5 linked regions of the Homo sapiens genome follow. The protein of the gene in region 5 purifies or fractionates together with the protein of the main gene of each other region. This does not show direct contact. Each region holds a gene or a part of one and is shown on either strand. Other genes may lie near its edges.

Region 1 (4,587 bases), on a different chromosome or scaffold from region 5:
GTAGAAAAGACTAACCTCAAGATACTCATATAGTGCACAAACATTTTCAAGAATGTTCATTGTGGTATCATTTGTAAGATACTATCTAAATCTTCATTTATAGGAGAATGATATATTGTGGCTATTCAATGAAATACCAACTTTCTAACTGCCTCTTTTAACATAGACAAATTTTAAAAAAACGTAACATTGAAGAGAAAAAAAAAAAAAGCAAAAACTGCAATTACTTTTGCACCAACCTAATGGAATGATACAAACAGCATGATACCACTTACAAAGTTTATGAATATCTAAAATACTGTGTTTTATTTAAGGATACACACAATATGTAGTAGAAATATGAAATCATTTATGGGCCCTGACTTTGTGATAGTGATTTTATCTAAGAACAGAGGAAGGGGAATAGGACTGGGCAGAGGTAGCAAGATACAACTATATTTGAAATATTTCACCAAAAATAAACACACACTAATACAAAAACTAAAAGGAAATACACCAAAAGGTAGAACTTTCTGTGATTTTAAAAAATTCTACTTCTAAGTCTTTTCCAAATTTTAAGATTAAGTTTTTCAAAACCTATTACGTTTTAATGAAAAAGAAGTAACAAGTTTATGGCCTAGTTTTTTCCTCTCAAAATGTGTTCCACAGACAAGTAGCATCAGCAACACCTGCGAGCTTGTTAGACTTTCAGGATCCCAGGCTCTGCCCCACAACTACTGAATTAGAATCTACATTTTAATAAGATTCCTAAGATTAATGTTTGAGAAACTTTGGCCTGCTTCACAACCAAGCATGAAAGTAGGCAGAAATAAAAATAGTTATCCCAACCAGTAAATAGAAAATTATTTCTACAATGGAACCAGCTAAGCACAGGATAAGGTAGAAGAGCAAAACCAAAATAAACTAATAATGAAAATACTAAGCAGGATCCAAAATGGCCATCTCATACAATGACCATTTACAAGGGTGAAGCAGTCTTAAAGAAATGTTTCTGGCTAGGCGCGGTGGCTCACGCCTGTAATCCCAGCACTCTGGGAGGCCGAGGCGGGCGGATCACAAGGTCAGGAGATCGAGACCATCCTGGCTAACACAGTGAAACCCCGTCTCTACTAGAAATACAAAAAGAAATTAGTCGGGCATGGTGGTGGGCGCCCGTAGGCTAGCTGCTCGGGAGGCTGAGGCAGGAGAATGGCGTGAACCCGGGAGGTGGTGCTTGCAGTGAGCCAAGATCACGCCACTGCATTCCAGCCTGGGCGACAGAGCGAGACTCTGTCTCAAAAAAAAAAATGTTTCTGAAGATTATAGGAATACCTGTATCCTTCAAGACCCAGATCCTGTATCGCATCCTCAGGAAGCCTTCCCTCTTTTGTCCCTGCCATTTTCCTTATTCCCTCCCAGTCTAGGCCATGTATGCTGTCTGAGATCCCATTATTGATATGATTACTAAAGCGATTACTATCTTGCTATGCTGGGGCTACAAAGATAAATCAGATATGCTTCCTGCTCTCAGCCAACTCTACTTAATAGGTAAGACAAGTCGATAAATAAACATTTGCAAAATAATATAACAAATAGAACACAAAGGTATAATCCTTACCACAGCTGTAATTATATAAGTAACTGTACAATTATATTTACTGCCTGGCTCCTTCAATAGACAGGAAACTACATGAAAGGAAGGTCTTTATATATTTTCTTCACTGTTGTATGCCCTTCACTGAGCAAAAACGGAAACTCAACAAATATTTGCTGAATAAATAAATGCAACATATGAGAACCAACATTGTTTAACTCAACCTTGTCAATCTGGGCAAAGTGTGCTGAAGACAAGGAGTTAGTCCTTGACGAGTGAGTAAGAGGTTAAGAAGCAAAGTTAAGGAAGAGTGTTAGATACGGAGACCCCAGCAAAGGTCCAGAGACACAAAACAAACAGTTTGGTACCACTGGAGCATTAGGTGCCAGAAGCCTTATTTTCTGCACGGGAAATAAGGATTAGGAAGACCAGGGCTAGGTTAATAGAGGATGGCAGATAAAAAGTCTGGAATTAACTGTGTGATCCCATAGCATCCTGTTCAAACCTCAAACAGCACCTAATATCTTTTACTGAAACAATCTGTTTACACATCTGTCTCCTTACTTAGTCTCTAAGGTAGCAGAAGGTAGAAACTATACTATGCACTTGTGCATCCCCAGAGATGGCACAGGCTCTGGCTCACTGTTAAGTACTCAAGTGTTGAGCTGGCAGGGTCCCAGAAGGACCTATGGAAGTGAATACCTACCGTAAACACTTTTAAGGCAGCACAGTGTAGTTCAGGGAAGGGCTGACTACTAATGCCACGGAAGAGCTCCAGTGGATCCCGAGATAAAGAAGAAAACCAGGATTCTGTCATCCTCAGAAGGTCATCAGTCTGCTGCTCAGGCTACAGGAAAGAAAAGGAAAATCTCATCAAAAGTTAACTGATCTGGAGAAAAGCACTTATTTAGAAGTCAGACACCTGAGTGCTGATGGCACTCTGTCATTAATTTGTTGTGTGAAACTGGCTAAGTCTGGAGGACTCTTTCTCAAATCCAGCCCAGACCTTTCCCAGTTTTCTTTGAATGTGGTTGATTAAGCAGTCTCTAGAGTCTCTTCAGTTCTAACACTCTATGATTCCATTTTAAATTAAAAATGTCACTAGTCATATAATGAGGGTTATCTTCTTGTATTTACTTCATCACATTTATCATGTTGATTCATACAGATTTATTCTCCCAAACATATCCCACTGTCCTTCATTATTTCCCTACCTACTTACTGGTAAGTACAGAAGAGATGAAATTGCATCCAAACATCTAATTTTTAGCTCCACTGGGGCATTCTTTGATTGATGTCCTATTCTCATAAGCAAGCGTTCAAAGCGAGTTCCTTTGAAGGATAACAGTGAGATTCTTCTTTATTATGGTAAAATATACACAACATAAAATTTACCATTTTAACCATTTTTAGTGTATAGTTCAGTGCTATTAAGTACATTCACACTGTTGGGCAACCATCATAACCATCCATCTCTAGAACTTTTTCATCAACCCAAACTGAAACTCTGTATCCATCAAACAATAATTCCCTTTCTTCTCTACCCTCATCCCCTGCCAACCACTATTCTACCTCCTGTGAACTGGACTCTTTTAGGCATCTCATCTAAGTGGAATCATACAATATCTGTCCTTATGTGTTTGGCTTACTTCACTTAGCATAATGTTATCAGTGGCGCAGGCTTCCTCCATGCTGTAGCATGTGCCAGAATCTCATTCTTTTTAAAGGCTGAGTAATATTCAATTGTATGTATATACCACATTTTGTTTATTGATTCATCTATCAATGAACATTGGGTTGCTTGCACCTTTTTTTGGTTATTGTGAATAACGCTGCTATGAACATGACTGTACAAACATTTGTTTGAGTCTCTGCTTTCAATTTTTTTTGGTATATACCTGAAAGTGGAGCTGCTGGATGAAGGAAATATAAAATGTACAAGGGTTACAATTTCTCCACATCCTAACACTTATTATTTTATGGGTTTTTTTTTAAAGTAATAGCCATCCTAATGGATATGAAGTGAAAAATGAGATTTTTTTAAAGTATGCTCTCATACACTATGACCTCTACCAACCTAAACCAATACAAAAATAAGCATGTAGTCAGAGAACCAGTGACAGGCCTAGAACACATAATTACACGCAACACAGCATATATAAGGCAAAGTTATAAAACTGGAATCAAAGGACCTGGACTTGAGTAGCAGCTGCCATAATTTGTATGACCTTAGAAATTTTCTTAACTCCTCTAAGTTTCATCTACCTTATCTGGAAAATGAAAATGACAATGTATGTTCTTTGCAGGACTGTAAAACGATTGTCATAGGTAAAAGCACTTAGAAAACGACATATAACAAAAATATTAGCTGTGATACACAACAGCGTATTAATTTTCTTTTTTTCTTTTTCTATTTTCTAATTTTTATTTTTTTGAGATGGAGTCTTGCTGTGTCACCCAGGCTGGAGTGCAATGGCGCAATCTCGACTCACGGCCCAGGTTCAAGCGATTCTCCTGCCTCAACCTCCCGAGTAGCTGGGATTACAGGCGCCTGCCATCACACCTAGCTAATTTTTGTATTTTTAGTAGAGACCATGTTGGCCAGGCTGGTCTCGAACTCTTGACCTCAGGTAATCTACCCACCTTGGCCTCCCAAAGTGTTGGGATTACAGGCATGAGCCACCTCGCCTGGCCTCTTTTTAAATTTTTTTTTTGAGATGGGGTCTCACTCTGTCACCTAGGCTGCAGTGCAACTGAGTGATCAAGGCTCACTACAGCCTTCACCTCCTGGGCTCAAATGATTCTCCCACCTCAGCCTCCCGAGTGGCTGGGACTATAGGCATGCACCACCACAGCTGGCTAATTTTTTTTGTTGTTGTTGTTGACGAAGCTGGTCTTGAATTCCTGGGCTCAAACGATCCTCCCGCCTTGGCCTCCTGAAGTGCTGGGATTACAGGTGAGATAATTTTCAACATATGTGTCTCAAGAATTTTAATAATTGGGCTGCATATTAT
Region 2 (4,041 bases), on a different chromosome or scaffold from region 5:
GATGAAGGGAGGGTTGGAGAGAGCAGCAGAGTACGAGAAAGGAAAGGAAACAAGAGAATGATTGCAGTGAAAGAAGGAGAGAACAAGTGAGCTGAAGAGAGGGATGAGAGAAAAAGGTGTGGTGTGGCAGGGACACACAGAGTAAGGTCAAAGGCAAAACAGCTGGGAGAGCGGTGGAGCCAGACAGATGAAAAGTCCTCAAAGAGAATTAGGGGCGAGATCAGGGTAGAAAGCAGGGATCAAGAAGTTTAAGGAAGTTGGAGAGCTGAGTGACAGGGACACACCCCTCCCCTCAAGCACCAGTGACAGGAGTAAAGGACACTGATTATCAGCTCCCTTCTGACCATATCACCTCCTCTCAACGTACCTAAGCAGTTTTCACCTACTCTTTTCTACATCCTCAGACTGCCAGGATATGGGTCTCAAACCTTTCCCTGGCTCCACCTCACCAGGATGAAGACCCAAGGCAGCTTTGGCTGGCATTACTGCAGCAGACAGGGGGTCCCAGCAATTGATTCCATTCTCTTTATTCCCTCAAACCACCCTTCACCCTGGTCCTAACTTGTTGATTGCTGGACAGGCTAAAGAAAGGGTGAGACTTGAAAGGAAGAGCCTAGGGGGCCCTGCTAGATTCAGAAAGCAGTGCCACAGAGGCTAGACTTTGTTCTCCCCTGCCAGACACACCCCCATCTTCTCCAGGGATTTGGCCAACACGTCGCAGCCCTTCTTCTGGTTGACAAAAATAATGATGGGTGGGTCAAAGCCTTGCTCCAAGATTGCCAGCAGCTTTTTCCTGGAAGGAAGAGGAGAAAAACAAGATGCATAATACCTCCCACTCCAAGTGAAATGCCCAACCCTCATCTATGAACACTACTTTCAGGGTCTTTAATGCCCATGACATTCTGCCCAAGAAAACAGCAGCTCTTCAACACAGCAGAGCAATTGCCCTGCCCTGCACCTGCACTAAAAAAGTTCTCAGAGCCATTTTATTCTCCACCCTGTTTCCCCTGGCTCAGCTGCCCTCATACCTCTTTTCTGACTCTGACATGAGGAAGACCTTCTGTTCCACACGCTCATGGGGCTTGCCTGCGGAGCCAATGTACACCACAGCAGGTCGCCGAAGATAGCTCCTGGCCAGACGCTCCACCGCTGGGGGCATGGTGGCCGTGAACATGACTGTCTACGAAAACAGGAGGCTCAGCCCTGCACCCAGGCAGGAATAATCATATATCCCACTGTCACCGAAGGCAGGTCAGCCCAGACTAAAGAATCTAAAATGGGCCACAGTATAGGCTTTGATAGCCACCACCTTAGAAAATAGTGTCCTCTGAATTCCCATCCTTCCTGAGTACCTGCTCATCAAGGCACTTTCCATCTTATGATGACAGGAAGGATTGAGAGCATTTGCTAGCACCTGTGGTCCCGGTAGCAGCATGAGTCTTTGGAATCGTTTTTCCAGGGCTAAGCTAAATGGCTCCACCCTTAGGACTGTCAGAGGACTGTACCTAGGCACACTTCATTCTAGAAACATGTACTCTGAGCCCACCTAAGGCAAGAAAGGCCCAAAAGGAGGTTGGCAACCTTGTACAACTTTTCTTTTTTTTTGAGACAGGGCCTCACTCTGTTGCCCAGGATGGAATGGAGTAGTGGCACGACCTCAGCTCACTGCGACCACTGCCTCCCAGGCTTAAGAGGTCCTCCCACCTCAGCCTCCTGAGTGGCTGGCACCACAGGTGTGCACCACCAATGCCCAGCTAATTTTTTAAATTTTTGTAGAGACGGAGTTTCGCCATGTTGCCCAGGCTGGTCTCAAACTCCTGAGCTCAAGTGATCCACCCGCCTTGGCCTGTCCAACTTTTCCCAGCCCAGGGAAGCAGCCTTACTTGGCGGTACTTATGTTTTCCCGACTCAAAGTTGGCCAGCATCTTCTCAGGGTCCTCAGCCTCATCCGTGTCTGGCTTCTGGTTGCTGACAGGCATGTGCTCCAGGATCTTCTGGACATCTGGCTCAAAGCCCATGTCAATCATCCTATCTGCCTCATCCAGAACCACATAGGTACAGCGGCTCAGCACCAGGTAGCGGTTCTCCAGCACATCAATCAAACGCCCAGGGGTAGCAATCACAATCTGAGGAGTACAGTATAATCATTTATAGCCCAGCAGGTGCCCCTTCTTTTCTTTCCTGTGAACTATCCACCCACTTGGGTGACAGACCTCCAATGCTGAGGAACTTGGACCCCAACCTCTGGTTATGTTTAGCAGTAAAGGCTCCTGCAAACTGGCATGAAATCACTTGTTGCCTGGATTTTCTCAGGAATGAATGAGGTCTCTGAGTAAGGTGCAAGGATTAGACAGAGGAGGCAAAATCAGTAGAAACTTTTTTTTTTTTGGCAAATCATTTCAGATCCTGAAGAAGGAACTTCTTAGATGGGAGAGACTAAGGGGTACTATGAAGGGGGTTGTATAAAGACTAAATTTTTTTAAAAAATTGTAAAAAGACTAAATTTCTACAGCAGACTTCTCATAAAGAGCTCTCCTCCACTTTCCTGAGATGAAGGCAATGCACAAAGTCAAAGATTTGGTCTGGCAGAGTAAAGAGTAACTAAAAGCACAGGCTATGGATATGAGTCTCAGCTCTGCCCATTGCCAGCTGTTTGTGACTTCAGGCAGTTATTAACCTGAACCTCAGCTTGATCTATAACAAGGAAATACCACTCTCATACATTATTGTGAGAATTAATGAGCTAATATATATGATATATACTATTTGTGATATAAACCCTGGTGCATAAGTTCTCAATAAATAGCACATATATATAAACCAGCTCCTTTCTTCATACTACTGCACATATATTCCAGAAACTAGAAACAAAGCCCCAAGATAGCCTTCCCAGACAGCAGGCTGGCTGCTAGATAGAAAAACAAACCTCACAACCCATGCGCAGCCTGAAGCCCTGGTCTTCTCTGGAGATGCCACCAATGACAGCCACAGTGCGGATACCTAGCGGTTTCCCAAACTTGATGGTCTCTTCCTCAATCTGTTGAGCCAACTCACGGGTGGGAGCCAGGATGATGGCATAAGGGCCTTGGTCTGACTCTTCGATCCTGTGGTAAACAGGGTGCCCCACAGCTTCGTGAGCTTTGGTTCTTATCCAACCACAAGCCAGAGCAAGACAAAGTCACTCTTACGGGGAGCAATGGGAATGGGGAGGATGATGAGAAAAGAATGCAATGATCTCACTTAAAAATCAGAGGCCAGGGCTGGGCATGGTGGCTCATGTCTGTAATCCCAGAACTTTGGGAGGCTGAGGCAGGCGGATCACCTGAAGTCAGGAGTTTGAGACCAGCCTGGCCAACATGGTGAAACCCTGCCTCTAATAAAAATACAAAAATTAGCCAGGCGTGGTGGCCGGCGCCTGTAATACCAGCTACTCGGGAGGCTGAGGCAGAAGAATCGCTTGAACCCAGGAGACAGAGGTTGCAGTGAGCTGAGATCACGCCACTGCACTCCAGCCTGGGTGACAGAGACACTCTGTCTCCAAAAAAAATAAAAATAAAAATAAGTCCAGAGGCCAGGCAAGGTGGCACAAGCCTATAATCCGAGCACTTTCGGAGGCTGAGGTGAGTGAATCACTTGAGCCCAGGAGTTTGAGACCAGTCTAGGCAACATGGTAAAACCCTGTTTCTACAAAAAATACAAAAATTAGCTGGGCATGTTCGAACACACCTGTAATCCCAGCTACTTGGGAGGCTGAGGTAGGAGGATATGAGCCTGGGAGGCAACGGTTGCTGTAAGCCAAGATCACACCACTGCACTCCAGCCTAGACAATAGAGCGAGACTCCATCTCAAAAAATAAATAAATAAATAAATAATAAATACATAAAAATCAGAGATTCAGCCAGGTGCAGTGGTTCACGCCTGTAATCCCAGCACTTTGGGAGGCCAAGGCAGGCAGATCAGTTGAGATCGGGAGTTTGAGACCAGCCTGGCCAACATGGTGAAACCTCATCTCTACTAAAAATGTAAAAATTAAGGACAGG
Region 3 (4,587 bases), on a different chromosome or scaffold from region 5:
CCTTTGCATGGATGTTAAGTGACCTTCATGAAGCCACGTCCCTAGACATGGGCCTTAGTGTAGTCTAGCTCAGAACCCCTGGTCTGGACACTCTCCTGCTCCCTTGTGCTAGGGTACACGGAGTTCAAAACAAGGCCACAGGCCTCCCACCTTTACCTGGTGCTGCCTCCAGACCAAGCAGAAGGATGGCTTTAACATCCACCTGAATCAGCCCCCACCTCCAAATGTATCCTGAATACTAATTTTTTTTTTTTTGGAGACGGAGTCTCGTTCTGTCACCCAGGCTGGAGTGCAGTGGTACGATCTAGGCTCGCTGCAACCTCTGCCTCTTGGATTCAAGCAATTCTCCTGCCTCAGCCTCCCGAGCAGCTGGGACTACAGGTGCACGCCACCTGTAATTTTTAGCACGTCACCCAGCTAATTTTTTTTTTTTTTTTTGTATTTTAGTAGAAACGGTTTCACCGTGTTGCCCAGGCTGGTCTCTAAATCCTGAGCTCAGGCATTCTGCCTGCCTTGGCCTCCCAAAGTGCTAGGATTACAGGTGTGAGCCACTGTGCCCAGCTATTACTGATTTTTTTTTCCTTTTTCTTTTTCTTTTTGAGACAGAGTTTCACTCTTGTTGCCCAGGCTGGAGTGCAATGAGACAATCTCGGCTCACCGCAGCCTCCACCTCCCAGGTTCAAGTGATTCTCCTGCCTCAGCCTCCCGAGGAGCTAGGAAAAGGCATGTAGCACCATACCCAGCTAATTTTGTATTTTTAGCAGAAATGAGGTTTCTCCATATTGGTCAGGCTGGTCTCAAACTCCTGACCTCAGGTGATCCGCCCACCTTGGCCTCCCAAAGTGCTGGGATTACAGGCGTGAGCCACTGTGCCTGGCCAATACTGATTTTTAAAAGCACCACTGGGCCAGGCATGGTGGCTTATGCCTGTAACCCTAACACTTTGGGAGGCCAAGGTAGGAGGATCACTTGAGACCAGGAGTTTGAGACCAGACTAAGCAACAGTGAGACCCCATTTCTAAAAAAAAAAACAAAAAGGCCGGGCACGGTGGCTCACACCTGTAATCCCAGCACTTTGGGAGGCCGAGGCGGGTGGATCACGAGGTCAGGAGATCGAGACCATCCCGGCTAACATGGTGAAACCCCGTCTCCATTAAAAAATACAAAAAATTAGCCGGGCGTGGTGGCAGACGCCTGTAGTCCCAGCTACTTGGGAGGCTGAGGCAGGAGAATGGTGTGAACCCAGGAGGCGGAGCTGGCAGTGAGCTGAAATGGCACCACTGCACTCCAGCCTGGGTGACAGAGCAAGACTCTGTCTCAAAAAAAAAAAAAAAAAAAATTAGCCAGGTGTGGTGGCATGCACCTTTAGTCCCAGCACTTTGGGAGGCCAAGGTAGGAGGATTGCTTGAGGCCAGTAGTTTGAAACTAACCTGTGCAATAGTGAGTCTCTAAAAAATAATAATAATAAATAAAAATTTTAAAAATTAGCTGGGCGTGGTGGCTCACATCTATAGTCCCAACTACTCTAAAGGCTGAGGAGGGAGGATCACTTGAGCCCAGGAGTTTGAGGTTATAGTGAGCTATAATTGTGCCACTGCACTGCAGCCTGGGTGATAGAGCAAGAATCTGTCTCAGAAAAATAAAAGTACTACTGAAGTTTTAAAATCCAGCTGAAGGAAACTGGGTAAACCAACAATCATCTGAGAAGGGTGGCGCATTTCCCCAGGCATCTGAGAGTGAGTGTGGTTCTGGATCTGAGGCTGGTTTTGGACACAGCTCTGCCACTAACCAGCTGTGAGGCTCTTGGACCCAGGCTCCTCATTTGTACAGTGCAGTCATTCTTACCAAAGGAGTTTTGTTTATTGTTCATTTTTAGGATTAAGTGGGGGCATAGTATGCAAAGGGATTAACAGAAAAATTGGTTCTTTCATTTTGGCTCCCTCTGTCCATCCCCCCTGTCACCACCCCCACATCTCCTCTGCAACACTGGAAGCCCCTGCCTCTGGACCTGCAGGCTGTGGCCAGGAAGGGCAGTTGCCTAGACACCTGCACCTGCCGACGGCCCCTCCCCACCATCAGGCTCCTCTTGGTTGGACACCTGCCCTAGCCCAGTCACATACAGGTATGACTTGTATTCGTTTATTTACTTATTTATTTATTTGAGACAGTTTCACTCTTATCACCCAGGCTGGAGTGCAGTGATGCAATCTCAGCTCACTGCCACCTCCGCCTCCCGGGTTCAAGCAATTCTCCTGCCTCAGCCTCCCAGGTAGCTGGCATTATAAGCGCCCAGCACCACGCCCAGCTATTTTTTTTGTATTTTTAGTAGAGATGGGGTTTCACCATATTGGCCAGGCTGGGCTCGAACTCCTGACCTCAGGTGATCCGCCCTCCTCGGCCTCCCAAAGTGCTGGGATTACAGGCATGAGCCACTGCATCTGGCCAGCCACTGCACCCGGCCTAGTTTTTTTAATAGACAGGCTCTCACTCTGTTGCCCAGGCTGGAGTAGAGTGGTACAATCATGGATCACTGCAGCCTTGACCTTCTGGGTTTAAGCAATCCTCCTGCCTCAGCCTCAGGAGTAGCTGGGACCACAGGTGCCTGTGCCACACCCAGCTTTATTTTCCTTTTCTTTTTTTTTTTTTTTTAGTAGAGACAGGGTTTCGCTATGTTGCCCAGGCTGGTCTTAAACTCCTGAGCTTAAGCGATCCTCCTGCCTCAACCTCCCAAAGTGCTGGGATTATAGGCATGAGCCACCATGCTCGGCCCTTTTCTTATTATTGTATTAAATGGATTCTTCTTTACTAAAAAATTACTTTAAAAGGAAACCTTGGCCAGGTGTGGTGGCTCACACCTGTAATCCCAGCACTTTGGGAGGCAGAGGAGGGCTGATCACCTGAGGTCGGGAGTTCGAGACCAGCCTGGCCAACATGGCGAAATCCCGTTTCTACTAAAAACACAAAAATTAGCCGGGCATGGTGGTGGATGCCTGTAATCTCAGCTACTCAGGAGGCTGAGGCAGGAGAATCGCTTGAACCTGGGCAGCAGAGGTTGCTGTGAGCCAAGATCTTGCCACTGTACTCCAGCCCAGGCAATACAGCAAGACTCCATCTCAATTAAAAAAAAAAAAGGGAGGCTGAGGCAGGTGGATCATGAGGTCAGGAGAGCAAGACCATCCTGGCTAACATGGTGAAACCCCGTCTCTACTAAAAATACAAAAAATTAGCTGGGCATGGTGGCGGGCACCTGTAGTCCCAGCTACTTAGGAGGCTGAGGCAGGAGAATGGCGTGAACCCAGGAGGCGGAGCTTGCAGTGAGCCGAGATCAGGCCACTGCACTCCAACCTGATCAACAGAGCAAGACTCTGTCTCAAAAAAAGAAAAAAAGCCAGGCACAGTAGCTCACGCCTGTAATCCCAGCACTTTGGGAGGCCGAGGCAGGCAGATCACGAGGTCAGGAGTTCGAGACTAGCCTGGCCAATATGGTGAAACCCCGTCTCTACTAAAAATACTAAAATTAGCCAGGCGTGTTGGCACATGCCGGTAGCCCCAGCTACTCAGGAGGATGAGGCAGAAGAATTGCTTGAGGCCGGGCGCGGTGGCTCACACCTGTAATCCCAGCACTTTGGGAGGCCGAGACGGGCGGATCACGAGGTCAGGAGATCGAGACCATCCTGGCTAACATGGTGAAACCCCATCTCTACTAAAAATACAAAAAAAAGTTAGCCGGGCGTGGTGGCAGGCGCCTGTAGTCCCAGGTACATGGGAGGCTGAGGCAGGAGAATGGCATGAACCCGGGAGGCGGAGCTTGCAGTGAGCCAAGATCGCACCACTGCACTCCAGCCTGGGCGACAGAGCAAGACTCTGTCTCAAAAAAAAAAACAAACAAACAAAAAAGGAAACCTTACACACTAGTGTAAATAAGAATATCACAGCATTTGTCATCCATCCAGATGACTCAAAGCAGTGTCAGTAAGTCCTGGGGGGAAGCTGCTACCTGCAAAGACTCTAGGCGTCTGCCTGTTCTCTTGGGAGACAGGCAAACATCAAAGAGTACAATGAAAAGATGGTGTTGGCCAAGGCCCGAGCAGGAGAAAATAGGGAGTTGCTATTTAATGGGTACAGAGTGTCCATTTGGGAAGATGAAAGAGTTCTGAAGGTGGATGGTGGAGGTGGCTGCACAACAATTGTGAACGTACTTCATGCCACAGAACTCTACACCTAAAAATGGTTAAGGAGGTCGATTATATGTTATATATATTTTACCACAATTTAAAATAAAAAAATATGTAAACCACATACAGACACCAGAAGAAAACTTTTATTTTGAGGAAAATTAAAGGACTGACAGTGAGTTTTGAAAGAGTGAATTTTTCTCATTCCCACTGTCGCATGAGGCCCCACTGGCACACAGAATGTGCTGGCGTCTGGCAGGCACTGCTTTTGAGGGGGTGCTCCCCACTCTTCACAACACAGGAACAGGAGGCAGGCAGGCCATAGGGGAACTCAGGGACCTGGGTCAGGCCAGAAAGCAACAGTGAAAAGAAAAGAGAAGTGAGAGTTGCACAAAGAACAAGGATGGGTGAG
Region 4 (4,587 bases), on a different chromosome or scaffold from region 5:
GTGCCTGGCTCTGGAAGTTACTTTGGAGACCGTTCTGTAAATCTCTAGGTGCATTAAGATTTACAACCTGGCTGGATCCCAGGACTGAGCCACAGAGCCTTTCTTAATTAAGGTCATACACACCTAGCTTCATTCACTAAGGGTCTATCAATCTGAGAGGCTGGGTTCTTTTAGAGAACTCCTCGTTCTCCTCCCCACAGAGTATCTCATGGAACACCCTTCTCTTCAGAATCTACCCCACCATGACCTGAAATTCCTATTCAGCCTCCAGCCCACCACACAGTCGTCTAGGTTGAAATAACAGGTATTCTTGGATACATGTTGCTTATTTAGGGAATTACTGAGTTATAGAAAATTGGGTTGAGAGCAAAAATGTTTCTTTTTGTGACATGCTGACAAACAGAACTGAAACCAGGCTTTAAATTGATACTTAAAACCTGTACACAGCTTTTGCATTAATTTTCATATGATCCCTCCAGCCCTAGGAGAACCAAATATCCCCACTAGAGAAACAAGAAAACTTGGACAGAGAAAGGCAAAAATCAATCCTAACACTGGTAAAATCAAGATTCGAATTCGGGATTCCTAATTCCAAAGCCCAGTGCTCTTTCCGTAAGACAGTGCTGCTAATGTCCCCCTCACCTTGGCCGAACACTCAGCTCCGGGATGGTTCGAACGAATCTGGGGTGACTTATTGGGAGATACCTGGAGAAACAAATAAGCTGAATCATTTCTCTTCATCTCTGTAACACAGTAATCTGTAGGTCAGGATTTCTCCCTACTCTCCACCAAACCAAGCTCACAAAAGCACCCTGTTCCACTGTCACACCACCACTGAAGACAGATGTGTCAGGCTGAAGGTTTCCATTCCCAACCTTTGCAGTTATTAGTAAGGAGCAGGCTCATCTGAATTTTTTTTTTTTCTGGGACAAGGTCTCACTCTGTCACCCAAGCTGGAATGCAGTGGCGCAATCATGGCTCACTGTAGCCTCAATCTCCTGGGCTCAAGCAATCCTCCCAGCTCAGCCTCCCAAGTAGCTGGGACTATAGGTGTATGCCACCATGCCCAGCTAATTTTTATTTTTATTTATTTATTTTTTTTTTTGTAGAGATGGGGTCTCACCATGTTGCCCAGGCAGGTCTTGAACTCCTGGGCTCAGGTTTTCCACCTCCCTCATCGTCCCAAAGTGCTGGGATTACAGGGTTCAGCCACTACACCCAGCCTCACCTGATTTTTTTTTTTTTTTTGAAACGGAGTCTCACTCTCTTGCCCAGGCTAGAGTGCAATGGCACAATCTCAGCTCACTGCAACCTCTGCCTCCTGAGTTCAAGTGATTCTCCTGCCTCAGCTTCCCGAGTAGCTGGGACTACAGGCACTGTGCCCGGCTAATTTTTGTTTTTTCAGTAGACGGGGTTTCACCATGTTGGCCAGGCTAGTCTTGAACTCCTGATCTCAGGTGATCCACCCACCTCAGCCTCCCAAAAGTGCTGGAATTACAGGCGTGAGCCACCGTGCCTGGCCTGATCTTTTAGGATTGTCATATCAGATCCTGAAAACAATTTTCCTTACAGTCTATATACTCCAATTCTTTCATTCTAAAAATAAGGAAACTGAGGTCTTTATTTAGAGGATAATTGACTTACTGAAGACCCCACAGTTAGCTACTGAAATTAATATGCAAATTATTGGCCAGACTTTGAATTCTTTTTTTGCTGTTCTTGTTATAGCAAGAATTTCTGCTACAGTAACATGTGGCACTAGATTTAAAGTAAATGAGGATAATTAAAGTGGGAGGTGGAGAATGACAACTGCAGATGTATACAGCGCAGTAACTGAGGCCAGCAACCCACTAGGCAAAGAACAGACTACACGTTCTCTCTTTCAGTCTTCACCATGGCCCTACAAAGTAGTCGCTACCATGACTCTCACGTTACAAATTAAGAAAATAAAATTTGGACTTAAGTAGCTACTGCCACATGGTCACAGTTAATCTAGAATTCAAACCCGGGTCTGACTCCAAACCCATGTTCTTAACAACCACACCATATATTCCATATTTTTAAAAAGAATAATGCACTGTAATCCCAGCACTTTGGGAGGTGGAGGTGAGCAAATCACAAGGTCAGGAGATTGAGACCATCCTGGCTAACACAGTGAAACCCCATCTCTATTAAAAACACAAAAAGTTAGCCGGGCGTGGTGGTGGGTGCCTGTAGTCCCAGCTACTTGGGAGGCTGAGGCAGGAGAAGGGTGTGAACCCAGGAGGCAGAGCTTGCAGTGAGGCGAGATCACACCACTGCACTTCAGCCTGGGCAACAGAGTGAGACTCCGTCTCAAAAAAAAGAAAAAAAAAAGAATCTTGCAAAATAATTCTTTGGTGAATGCCTTTTGTTAACTAAAAGAGAATCTGACTTACATGCAACTTTTTGGAGCCCACCTACTTTCCCAGTCCTCCCACAACAACAACAATCTCCCTCGAAGCCAGCCCACCCCCAGAGCCTCCATACTTGAATGTCTTCATGTCTCGCCCGCCAATCACTCGGGCAGTGACCGTCTTCCCAACCTTCAGCTTGGTAGTAGGAGAGGTGCCCTCTGGAACATCATCTAGAATGTGGGAGGCATGGATACAGCCAATAATGCCATCTTCCAGAGTCACAACCACATGGGTAGGCTTAATGGACTTGACAGTCCCTGTGACCATGTCCCCGATGGAGAGGGTGTGCTTCTTTATGGTCCCTACAGTCAGAGCTGGATCCACTTCTTCATCCTCATCAACTGTCTCAGAGTCCTTCTGGGTCGGCCTCATGGTCCTCTTGGCAGCCGGCCCCTCCACAGCCAAAAGAAGGCCAGTCACTCCTGGTTCTGTGGTCTTGAGGGTTAGGGAGACACCCTGTCCCACCTGCAATTTCTCTGAGTCAAAGCGGAAGGTGTCGTTGAGGTGAGAGGTCAGGGAGAAAGCTGCCAGGTGGCCCGTCTCTACCAAGGAGGCAATGGCAAAGGACTTCTCCAAGTGCTGCACAATCGCCTGGTGTTCGCTGCCTTTCCTCAGCTAGAAGAGAGAAAAGCCACCATCCCTGCTTTCCTTACACAGCATGGTCACTCACTCATGGCCCCACTGGGCAGGGTGTGGCTGAGGAAACCCTCTGGGGTCCCAAGGCTAGGGAACTCAAGGCTGGTCTGAGCTGGAACAGACTAGCCTTCACTCCCTGGACCTAGCTTTCCTCTCCTGTACACTAAACTCATGGGGCTGCCTCTGAATTACCTTGGCTTGGTTTTTGCTTTGCTTTGAATTTAAATTGCAAGACCCTATCCTAGATCTAGTAAATCTGAATTTTACAAGTTATTGAGATAATTCTGATGCACAGCCTTGCAACCTCTAACAGCTCTCTCAGCTTAGAGACACTGTGGTTCCTGAATCTGTCCTGCAGCTCCCCCACCCCCAATTAATCACTCTTCAACCCAAGCAATGAATAGAGTCATTACTGAGAGCTTATTGTGTGCAAGGCACCTAGCCTCTCTTTCCTCAAAATCCAAATTGTGCTCATGCTCTTATATGCCCAAGCTTCCCTTAGGTGATAAAATGGTACAGGGTCCTGCTAGAAAACTGAATGAGAGGTTAGTATTGCTTTCCATTCTCTCTCTGTCCTAAACTCTTAATACTGTAAGCAACTGGAAATTAAGGATTATATCTACACTGCACCATACTCTGTGCAACTAGGTGCCTAATAAGTGCTTTAGACAATAACCAAATATATTCATCACCCAGAGAAAAATAATAATTTTTCCCTCAAACCCATTCTTATGTCACACAAAAGTGTCCAGAAGACAAGGCAGGCGAGGGTGTGGACGCACAGCTTGGAGGTCTGAACTGCCCACAGACATGCTGTTTGGCTCATGGGATGTTTTTAAAAAAATAAGTTTCCAACATTTTCAGCTTTTATTTCAAATAAAAATCCAAATTCTGCCTTCTCTTAAAAATCAAAGATTTAGCAGCAGTAGCCCCAGATTCCCACCCGGCAACAATTGGGCGGGACTGAACAGTCTCAGCCCCACAGGGGCTGGGCATGCACTCTCCAGCTCGTCAGAGTCCCAGGCCAGCCACTCCCTACCCACACAGCCAGCTCCACTCCTGCACACTATTTATCTGTCTGGCCCTAAAGATGGAGTGCCCATGTAACTTATCACCGGAACCAGAACAGAAGTCAGCACTATGAACCACACCAGGACAAGAGGTCTAAACCGGGGGTGTCCTGGATCCATCCAGACATAGGGCTACCCTTGCTACAGGCATCTGAGTTGGAATCCCTGAACTGGAGTGGGGTTGAAGGGTACATCATGTGAAACCATGGAAATGGAAGTCAGGAGCAAGCTTACCTTTCTAGCTTTTCTATTCACCAAGTCCTGGTGAAGGGAAACGTGCACTTCCAACTTCAAAAGATCAACATTTAAGATAACAACCTTCTTTTTCTGCCCAGATTCCACCTCCTGCCCTGCAGTGCAGAACCACAGTGTGATTATCCTTCTGGAACAGAGTGAAGGGAGAGCAGCACCTCTCACATGTAGCTGCTACCCCTTAGATCCAAAAA
Region 5 (4,587 bases):
GGTGATAGAGACATGAAAAACCTTTCAAAAAATCAATGAATCCAGGATCTGATTTTTTGAAAAGATCAACAAAATAGAATGCTAGCCAGACTAATAAAGAAGAAAAGAGAGCAGAATCAAATAGACACAATAAAAAATGATAAAGCGGAGATCACCACTGATCCCACAGAAATACAAAATACCATCAGAGATTACTATAAATACCTCTAAGCAAATAAACTAGAAAATCTAGAAGAAATGGGTAAATTCCTGCAAACATACACCCTCCCAAGTCTAAACCAGGAAGAAGATGAATCCCTAAATAGACCAATAACAAGTTCTGAAATTGAGGCAGTAATTAATAGCCTACCAACCAAAAAAAGTCCAGGACCAGATAGATTCACAGCCGAATTCTACCAGAGGTACAAAGAGGTACAAAGCTAGTACTATTCTTTCTGAAACTATTCCAAACAATAGGAAAAGAGGGACTCCTCCCTAACTCATTTTATGAGGCCAGCATCATCCTGAAACCAAAACCTGGCAGAGACACAACAAAAAAAAAAAAAGAGAGAAAATTTCAGGCCAGTATCCCTGACGAACATCCATGCAAAAATCCTCAATAAAATACTGGCAAACTGAGTGCAGCAGCACATCAAAAAGCTTATCCACCACGATCAAGTTGGCTTCATCCCTGAGACACAAGGCTGGTTCAACATACGCAAATCAATAAACACAATCCATCACATAAACAGAACCAATGACAAAAACCACATGATGATCTCAATAGATGCAGAAAATTTGATAAAATTCAACACCCCTTCATACTAAAAACTCTCAATAAACTAGGTATTGATGGAACGTAGCTCAAAAAAAATGACAGATTTAAGACAAAACCACAGCCAATATCATACTGAATGGGTAAACCTGGAAGCATTCCCTTTGAAAGCTGGCACAAGACAAGGATGCCCCCTCTCACCACTCCTGTTCAAAATAGTATTGAAAGTTCTGGCCAGGGCAATCAGGCAAGAGAAAGAAATAAAGGGTATTCAAATAGGAAAACAGGAAGTAAAATTGTCTCTGTTTGCAGATGATATGAATTGTATATATAGGGAACCCCACCATCTCAGCCCAAAATCTCCTTAAGCTGATAAGCAACTTCAGCAAAGTCTCAGGATACAAAATCAATGTGCAAAAATCACACACATTCCTATACACCAATAACAAACAGAGAGCCAAATCATGAGTGAACTCCCATTCACAATTGCTACAAAGAGAATGAAATATCTAGGATTACAACTTACAAGGGATGCAAAGGACCTCTTCAAGGAGAACTACAAACCACTGCTCAAGGAAATAAGAGAGGACACAAATAAATGGAAAAACATTCCATGCTCATGGATAGGAAGAATCAATATCGTGAAAATGGCCATATTGCCCAAGGCAATTTATATATTCAGTGCTATCCCCATCAAACTACCATTGACTTTCTTCACAGAATTGGAAAAAACTACTTTAAACTTCATATGGAATCAAAAAAGAGCCCGCATAGCCAAGACAATTCTAAGCAAAAAGAACAAAGTTATAGGCATCATGCTACCTGACTTCAAACTATACTACAAGGCTACAGTAAACAAAACAGCATGGTAGTGGTACCAAAACAGATATCTAGACCAACAGAACAGAACAGAGGCCTCAGAAATAACACCACACATCTACAACCATCTGATCTTTGACAAACCTTACAAAAACAACCAATGGGGAAAGGATTCCCTATTTAATAAATGGTGTTGGGAAAACTAGCTAGCCATATGCAGAAAACTGAAACTGGACCCCTTCCTTACACCTATACAAAAATTAACTCAAGATGGATTAAAGACTTAAATGTAAGACCTAAAACCATAAAAACCCTAGAAGAAAACCTAGGCAACACCATTCAGGACATAGGCATTGGAAAAGACATCATGACTAAAACACAAAAACCAATGGCAACAAAAGCCCAAATTGAGAAATGGGATCTAATTAAACTAAAGAGCTTCTAGACAGCAAAAGAAACTATCATCAGAGTGAACAGGCAACCTACAGAATGGGAGAAAATTTTTGCAAGCTATCCATCTGACAAAGGGCTAATACCAAGAATCTACAAGGAACATAAACAAATTTAAAAGAAAAAAACAAACAACCCCATCAAAAAGTGGGCGAAGGATTTGAACAGACACATTTCAAAAGAAGATATTTATGCAGCCAACAGACATATGAAAAAAAGCTCATCATCTGATCATTAGAGAAATCCAAATCAAAACCACAATGAGATACCATCTCACACCAGTTAGAATGGTGATCATTAAAAAGTCAGGAAACAACAGGATGCTGTTTTGGATGCCAAAGAGGATGTGGAGAAATAGGAACACATTTACACTTTTACTCTGTTGGTGGGAGTATAAATTAGTTCAACCATTGTGGAGGACAGTGTAGCAATTCCTCAAGGATCTAGAACTAGAAATACCATTTGACTCAGCGATCCCATTACTGGGTATGTACCTAAAGGCTTATAAATCATTCTGCTATAAAGACACATGCATGTTTATTGTGGCACTATTCACAATAGCAAAGACTTGGAACCAACCCAAATGCCCATCAACGATAGACTGGATAAAGAAAATGTGGCACATAGACACTATGGAATACTATGCAGCCATAAAAAAGGATGAGTTCATGTCCTTCACAGGGACATGGATAAAGCTGGAAACCATCATTCTTAACAAACTAACACAAGAACAAAAAACCAAACACAGCATGTTCTCACTCATAAGTGGGAGCTGAACAATGAGAACATATGGACACAAGGAGGGGAACATCACATACTGGGGCCTGTCAGGGGATGGAGGGCTAGGGGAGGAACAGCACTAGGAGAAATGCCTAATGTAGACGACGGGTTGATGGGTGCAGCAAACCACCATGGCACTTGTACACCTATGTAACAAAACTGCACATTCTGCACATGCACCCCAGAACTTAAACTATAATAAAAAGTAAAAAATAAAAAATAAATAAAACTCTGATCTGTAGGCCAAAGGGTACTTCTTTTTCTTTATTAATTACTCAGAAGTCTAGGCCACAGCAATCCTACTGTTCTCCTCTCATTTTCCTAAACTATTTTGATACCTATTTCTCAGACTTTATGGGCTATTAGACATTTCTCACATTTCCATAGATAATAACTCATCCGTTTTGCAACCTGATTCTCAATATTAAGAGATTAAAACTAATGTATATGACTCTCAGTTGACACATACTGAAGTACAGAAAAATTCCATCATTTCCTTCTGCAAAATGAAAAAGACTTCGTTTTCTCAACAGCTGCATCATTTTTTTATGCATAGAAAAAAATGTGCAATTACTCCAAGTACAATCAAGTCATTTAACATGGCTTTACCATCATTGTAGTTACAGGATATTTTAAAAGAGAAAAAAAAATCTCAAAGCACAGGTCCTGCTGTGCAGCAAAGCAATCAAATTCCTTCATAATAACAGCCTGATGGGATTCAGCAATCTGAGGAATAATGAATAACCACTCTAATCAGTAAACAGGAAAATGCTACAACAGTCACTGAGTAAAAATTGGACTATCATCTGTTGATTCTCTTGATCGACATTTCAAACAATAAATGGAAATGTAAGTATCTCTTAAAAAGAAAAATAACTTGGTTTAGTGTGCTTAATTTTACCAGGCAGTGAGGAAATTATATATCACCTTGACTGTCCTGCAGTGTTGCCCAGTCAATAAAATGCACAAATAATCTTTTTCATAATACATGGCCAACTTTATCCTATCACTTGAATATGTCAGGATAAACTGATTGTGCAGTTGGTTGATAACATTGTATTTTGGAATGGATTATTTGAATTTGTTTTGCTACTTTATTATTTGATATTCTTCTCCAGTGTTCATCTTATGAAGTTATTTGCATCTGAATATGAAGAGTCTGTTTCAAAATAGTCTTCAAGTTTCCAACGCAGTGTCTCAAATGTAGGTCGTTCCTTAGGCTCTGCATTCCAGCACTCCAACATGATGTTGTAAAATTGCTGTGGACAGTTGGATGGTTGCGGAAGTCTATAGTTTTGAGCCAACATCTGGATTACCTGGGCACCTGTCATACCTTGAAAATACAGAACGAAACCAACAACAACAAAAAAAACAAGTTAAAGGTCAGAGTCTTAAACTTATAGCCATTTATACTCTAGGTTACTAAGTAAGTCAATTTCTTTGGCAAAGATTTAAGGTCTGCCATCCCCTTCTCAGGTTACACAGATTAAACTAAATCCTGCAGCAAGTGATGTCTATAAGACTGCAATTCACTAGCAAAGGAGAGGGAAGCAATAAACCACCTCATTAATGCAAATTATCATCATCAAATTTTATCTATCAAGCTCCCGCAGGTATGGTATGGTCAGCCTCATAACTCTGCCCTCTAAGTCTGGGCAAAGCAGTTAAAATCACACCTAAGTAAGTGACATGCAGCAGAAAGGTCCACTTCAGAATTAATTACTCACCACTGTAAGGCATTTTGCCATAAGTAATGATTTCATAAAGAAGGATTCCAAATGACC

Evidence for each region.
Region 1: the proteins of FRK (region 5) and PSMD5 purify together in Homo sapiens (affinity purification with mass spectrometry, with the first as the bait; one large-scale study listed by BioGRID). This does not show direct contact.
Region 2: the proteins of FRK (region 5) and DDX23 purify together in Homo sapiens (affinity purification with mass spectrometry; one large-scale study listed by BioGRID and IntAct). This does not show direct contact.
Region 3: the proteins of FRK (region 5) and NUP210 purify together in Homo sapiens (affinity purification with mass spectrometry; one large-scale study listed by BioGRID and IntAct). This does not show direct contact.
Region 4: the proteins of FRK (region 5) and PDCD11 purify together in Homo sapiens (affinity purification with mass spectrometry; one large-scale study listed by BioGRID and IntAct). This does not show direct contact.

What each region holds. Positions count from the first base shown.
Region 1 is NC_000009.12:120,818,560-120,823,146, forward strand, and holds part of PSMD5 (26S proteasome non-ATPase regulatory subunit 5), read right to left. Parts: intron 2,906-4,587; coding exon 2,796-2,905; intron 2,421-2,795; coding exon 2,280-2,420; intron 1-2,279. UniProt on the Homo sapiens protein: Acts as a chaperone during the assembly of the 26S proteasome, specifically of the base subcomplex of the PA700/19S regulatory complex (RC).
Region 2 is NC_000012.12:48,831,394-48,835,434, forward strand, and holds part of DDX23 (probable ATP-dependent RNA helicase DDX23), read right to left. Parts: intron 3,105-4,041; coding exon 2,927-3,104; intron 2,127-2,926; coding exon 1,884-2,126; intron 1,181-1,883; coding exon 1,029-1,180; intron 794-1,028; coding exon 685-793; intron 1-684. UniProt on the Homo sapiens protein: Involved in pre-mRNA splicing and its phosphorylated form (by SRPK2) is required for spliceosomal B complex formation.
Region 3 is NC_000003.12:13,409,599-13,414,185, forward strand, and holds part of NUP210 (nuclear pore membrane glycoprotein 210 precursor), read right to left. Parts: intron 1-4,587. UniProt on the Homo sapiens protein: Nucleoporin essential for nuclear pore assembly and fusion, nuclear pore spacing, as well as structural integrity.
Region 4 is NC_000010.11:103,423,447-103,428,033, reverse strand, and holds part of PDCD11 (protein RRP5 homolog), read right to left. Parts: intron 4,492-4,587; coding exon 4,376-4,491; intron 3,051-4,375; coding exon 2,509-3,050; intron 706-2,508; coding exon 643-705; intron 1-642. UniProt on the Homo sapiens protein: Essential for the generation of mature 18S rRNA, specifically necessary for cleavages at sites A0, 1 and 2 of the 47S precursor. Directly interacts with U3 snoRNA. Involved in the biogenesis of rRNA.
Region 5 is NC_000006.12:115,938,490-115,943,076, forward strand, and holds part of FRK (tyrosine-protein kinase FRK), read right to left. Parts: coding exon 4,531-4,587; intron 4,137-4,530; coding exon 3,925-4,136; 3' UTR 1-3,924. UniProt on the Homo sapiens protein: Non-receptor tyrosine-protein kinase that negatively regulates cell proliferation.